2 separate regions of the Homo sapiens genome follow, and region 2 is linked to region 1. A link means that fine-mapping ties the variant in region 1 to the expression of a gene that starts in the linked region. Tissue or cell type: whole blood. Region 1 holds a variant in brackets; the other region holds the start of a gene. All regions are shown on one strand. Distances are between the middles of the regions.

Evidence for each region. PIP is the estimated chance that this variant, and not a neighbour inherited with it, causes the effect.
Region 2: PRKCB starts here. The variant in region 1 is fine-mapped to the expression of PRKCB in whole blood (INTERVAL, PIP above 0.99).

The regions. Positions count from the first base shown.
Region 1 is chr16:24,032,415-24,035,171 of GRCh38, reverse strand. The region is part of intron 4 of PRKCB (protein kinase C beta); the gene reads right to left. Among named protein-coding and RNA genes, the nearest start is that of MIR1273H, 170 kb to the left of the region's middle. The variant T/C (reference allele first, on the strand shown) is at 1,139.
Region 2 is chr16:23,834,790-23,837,416 of GRCh38, reverse strand. It overlaps PRKCB (protein kinase C beta), which reads right to left and starts at 1,434. Exons shown (of 17, transcript NM_002738.7): 1 at 1,069-1,434; 2 at 11-42. The coding sequence starts at 1,241. RefSeq lists enhancers at 329-468, 732-1,277, 1,278-1,825 and silencers at 779-858, 1,189-1,268, 1,299-1,938.

The DNA.
Region 1 (2,757 bases):
AGTCTGAAGCAAGCACACCCCACACCCCTTAAGGCTCTGAAGCCAGAGTCACCAACTTCAATGCTCACAGGCTGGCTGGTCACATGAGTGAGGAAAGCTAAGGGGGTGGCAGGGACTTGGCCAAGCCAAGTGGGAAACAGAGCAAAAACATTCCCCATTTCTCAACGTATGCAGGAATCTCGATGTGTACGTGACAGCTCTGATTTTTAAATATTAACAGCTAATAGGTTGGGCTCCCTGGAAAGAGTCTGAGACGGGGAGTTTTGAGCACAAGGTTTTTGGGGAGTGCTCTTGTGGGGAGAAGTTCGTTTGCCACGTGGATGCAATCAAAGCTGATGTTAGGGGGAGCCCAGAGCTGAGATGACCCTTCAGAGTTGTTCCAAACTGAGACAAGAGGGCTGGGCACCACAATCATCTGGTCTCCCTGGAAGAGGCATTATCTTGGGCAATTATGCAGGATGGGGCACTGCTGTGAACCACAGCTAGGGGATGGGGTGGGACCATGAAGAGGGGGTCTGGGCTGGCCATAGTGTCCACCATAATTAATTACAAGGAAAAAGATTTAGAGCCAGGGCAGGGTGGATAAAATGTGCCTATACACTGAATTTGGCCTTCGGCCATCTCTCATGTTATAGGATATCCACTCCCTCTGCGCACTCCTCCGTAGAGTATCTGTGTCTATTTCAATGTGGTGGGTGATTTCTTCTAGGTCTTGAGCAATAATGCCCCACTCCAGGAAGGTGTGCCAGGCACCCAGGATTCTCCAGGGGGACGCTAGTTCCAGTTGGAGAAGCCAGAAGGAGAGGCCAAGTCACCCCATGGGCCCCTATTTCAAGGGATCTGGGGGCAAGGGACCCTTCTCAGACCACCCAAGTCCCAGGAGGCAGCAGGCCTATTACAAAAACTAGAAATGAGTTGTGGGGAGGGAAGGGAGAGCCCTCTGGGACCTGAGCACCAGCCTGAGCTCCCACCCACCACTGTCTCTGAGGCAGGGACATTGTCCCTATATTAGGGCCCCATGTGTGGTAAGAGGAGCTGGTGTCCTGCAGGCAGAAGGCTCCAACCTCACTGTCCCCCTGTGGCTCTTGCCATGTTTCTGTGTCTGTCTCTCTGTTTCCACGTTGCTGCATGTCTCTTG[T/C]CTCTGCTGTCCCACTTCTGCACGTGGCTCACTGCCTTGGCCGTGTCTGTGAATCGGTCTGTTCCACTCTCTGCACTTGTCTCTGGCCTCTTTGTCTCTCCCTTTCTCCAACTGTGTCTCTCTGCCTCTCTCCTCCGTGTCTCTCTGTGGCTCTCCATGTGTGCTTCTGTCTCTGTCTCTGGTCTTTCCATCTCTATACCTCTGCATGAGCCTGTGTAATGGCGTCTCTCTCTGTGTCCATGCCAATCATTTTATCTTTTCTTCTTCTTCTTCTTTGAGAGTCTCACTCTGTCACCCAGGCTGGAGTGCAGTAGTGTGATCTCAGCTCACTGCAACCTCTGCTTCCTGGGTTCAAGTGATTTTCCTGCCTCAGCCTCCCAAGTAGCTGGGATTACAAGTACCCACCACCTTGACTGGCTAATTTTTGTATTTTTAGTAGAGATTGGGTTTTGCCACGTTGGCCAAGCTGGTCTCAAACTCCTGACCTTAGGTGATCCACCCGCCTCAGCCTCCCAAAGTGTTGGGATTACAGGAGTGAACCACTGCACCTGGCTTATCTGTTGGTCTGTGTGTCTGCCTGTCCCTCCTTTTGCCTGAGTCTCTCTCTAGCTGAGTCTCTCTGTAGCTTCCACGCCCCACATTCCTCCCTGTGTTAGGGTTGCATGTGTCCATCTTTCCCCTGCATCTGTGTCTGTCTATGCATGTGTGTTTCTTGCTGTCTGTCTTGCTCCCTACCACCCTTATTCACCCTCACAGTCCTCTCTGTCACTCTCTGCCCTATGACTTTCTCCCTCTGTCCTCTGGGCCTCAGGACCCTTGGGAGAGCAGTACCACTAGCCTCATGACACCCAGCCTGCTGCAGACCAACAGGTCTGTGGGAGCCACCAGCACCTCCAGTGTCCCTGTAGCTTTGTGGCCATAGCTCTCAAAGCCTGTCTGCTCCCCTGCCCCACAGGCCATCCGGGCCTTGGCCTCATAAAGAGGAGTCCTACCCCACCTGCCTTTCCTACCACATCCTGGCCAGAGAATGATGCTCTTTCCTCCTCCAGCACAAACCTGTGGGTGCTGCAGGGCCACAGGTCTTCTCCATGCAAAGAATGCATCAGCCCCACATCTCAATGCTGAAAACAGTGGTGGTGCATGGCTGCAGAAATGCCCATGATTTGTTCATGCCTCTGGGTGTCAACAGCCATGGACTGCCCCTTCCCACACTGTGACTGTGCATCTCACATGCCACTTGCTTTGACCAGTGGATCAGGAGCAAAAGACACAAGTAGAGACTTGAAGTGTGGCTGCCAATGGGACTTGCCCTCCTAAGAAACTCAGGACCCTGTGACCTCCGTGCATGCACGGAGGCTAGGTAGCCTAGCCCACTGAGGAGGAAAGACACGTGGCCTGGTCATCACCATCACCCAGATGACAGCCAGCCATCCTCCAGGACATGTGGGTGAGGCCACCATGGCCCAGACAGCTCCCAGCCCACCTCCATCTGCTAATCCACCATGAACCATGAGTTCATGCTTTATGAACATGCGTGACATCAGCTGAGGCCAGCCCAGATTCAAAGAACTGCCTTGCAGAGTCATGAGCTAAAAAAATGTTTATTGTCTTCAGTCACA
Region 2 (2,627 bases), 200 kb after region 1:
CAGAGCCTACCTTGGCACTGGAATCCCTGCTTCCCGAAGCCCCTGCAAAAGCAGAAGGAGGTGTATGTCAGGCAGCCCGGGGGGCCCAGCCTCCAGCTAGTTACCCACAGAGTCACCCGCCTTCCTCCCTGCCTCTGTACCCCAGGTGCAAACTCCCAGCCACAGGCGGGTGCCCAAGAGTCTTCCGCCTTTGTGGGGGTAGGTGGGAGCTCGGCTGTAACCCCCATCTGCCTTCACTCCTGCAGAAGAGAGGAGGCTGCGACCACCAGGTGGCGGGATAGTGGGGAGCGTTTCCGTCGGGGTAGGGGCTGAAGGCAGGCGACAGATGTACCCATAGATGCCCCGAGCACCCTCGGGAAAAGAGAAGAGATAAAGACGCATTCAGAGGGAGGGCGAGAGTGACCCCGCGGCGGTGGTGTCCTCTGGGAGGGGGACTGGGAAGGAGGAAAGGATGCCCCACTACTGGAGGGACTGGGGAAGAAAGGGGCCCGCAGTGATGTGACCGAGGAGTGGAAAGGGGAACCCAGGCCCTCGGGGAGGGGCAATGGGAGATAACACAGGGCGCTGCCCGGAGGCACAGAGGAGTGAGAAAGGATGTCCCATGCCCGCAGGGAGATAGAGAAGGACACCCAGGGCGCCGCCCCCCCCGGAAACAAGGGGTGGGGGGCGAGGGCTCCTCGCGCCCGGAAGCAGGCGGAGAGATAGGGAACCCCGGGTCGGAGAGCACCCGAGGCGCTGCCCTCCAGGGCAGGCACAGACCCCGCGCGCTCCTAGTCAGGTGGAGCAAAGGCTCCCGCGACGCCGCCCCTGGGCGCTCTAGAGGCGCCTGAGAGCAGGAGAGGGCAGGAGGCGCCCCGCGGCGGCCCGTCTGGGACCAGGGTGGGGACAGGGCAACGGCAGGACTGTCCATCCGGGAGTCCCGGGCAGCAGGGTCCGGAGCCGGGAGTCCGGAGACGCGGGGTCCCAGGGTGCGGAGGGCGCGGAGGGCGCAGAGGGCGCGGAGAGGGGGTCCCTGGCGCGGCGCTGCCCTCGGGGGCCCGGGAAGGTGCCCTGCGCGCGCGCGCTCACCAGATGAAGTCGGTGCAGTGGCTGCAGAAGGTGGGCTGCTTGAAGAAGCGGGCGGTGAATTTGTGGTTCTTGACCTCATGCACGTTCTTCTGCCGGAGGGCGCCTTTGCGGGCGAAGCGCACGGTGCTCTCCTCGCCCTCGCTCGGCGGCGGCCCCGCAGCCGGGTCAGCCATCTTGCGCGCGGGGAGCCGGAGCCCGAGAGGTGCCGGCCCCGGGGCCGCGGGACCGCGGGCTGCGGGCCGGGGAGGCGCGGGAGGCGGCGGCCGCTGCTGCACCCGGGGCCGCGGGCGCTTCCCCTGCGCCGGCTCTGGCGGCCGCGGCGCGCGGAGCCGGGGCTGTCACTCGCCCAGCTGCTGCCGCTCGTCCAGCTGCGCTTGGCACCGCTGGCCCCAGCTGCGGGGGAGGGAGGCGGAGCCCCGGGCCAGCCCCGCCCTCCTCATTTGCATCGCGCCCAGGCCCCGCCCAGCGCTGCCAGCTGCTTTACATATCGGCGCCCGGGCTACCGCGGGCCTCGCGGCTAAGCGTGCACAGCCGCAGCTCTGCAGCGCCGGGACCGCAGCCCGGGGTCGTCGGACCCGAGCCTCGCCCCCCACCCCACCCCGTCCTCGGCCCCCGGGGCTGCGTTCAGGAGATGTGCCCAGGGGAGGAGCGAGAGTGGAAAGACCTACGGGGCGAAGGGGAGCGGGTGGAAGGGGTGGGGCGCAGCGAATTCCACCCCGGCCTCTGCGGAGACTGGTACCCATCCACCCCCATCCATCCCATTGGTCATTCTGCACGCGTCTCCTGGAGGGATGGGCTCCCGCTGTCACTCATTCGGAAAGGCTTGTGGCCGCACACACTTACACACACATACACACACACGTTCTGCAGAGGTAGGGGAGGAGCGATCTTTATTTTATATGTCTCTAACTCCACCACAGAGAAGATTCTTGGCTTTGCTTGCCTCCTGCACGTTTGGAAGAGAACTCCCTACCTTCTGTCCATCCCCTCTGCAAAACGACTCCGTTTCCCCAACTGTAACATAGGGCTAATAGTGTGGGGAGGAAGGATTTCAGTAGATCAATATTTTTCCAAATTTCATTCATTTCTGACTCGTCTTCACAAATTCTGGTCGTATTTGTGCACCCTCTGGGGGAAAAAAAGCCTATCTCTTTTGGTCTGAGTTTGAACAGCAAGAGGTATCTACATTATTAAAATATCTCCAGGTGCCGTCATCTGTCCTAAGCATCTTCGACTGAAGTCATCTTTTATTTGTTAAGAGAGGAAATTAATAAATGCTAGAGGGGTGTTAAAGACATTACTATCCAACCAGGACTCTCTCCTTGATGTGATCTGAAGGTAACTGAAAGGGTAATAATTGTCTACAATGTGTAATTCAATGTTATTTAGCGCCCTGTTCATGCACAAGGCCTAAAGATACCCACTGCCACCATGTCCCCCACTCTGGGAACGCAGAGCTTCATTAGGCTGTGAGCTCCTTCACCAGACCTAGGCTCTGTGAGAGCAGGGGGGCTGTTCACCACCATGTCGCCCAGCACCAAGCTCAGTGCCTGACACCT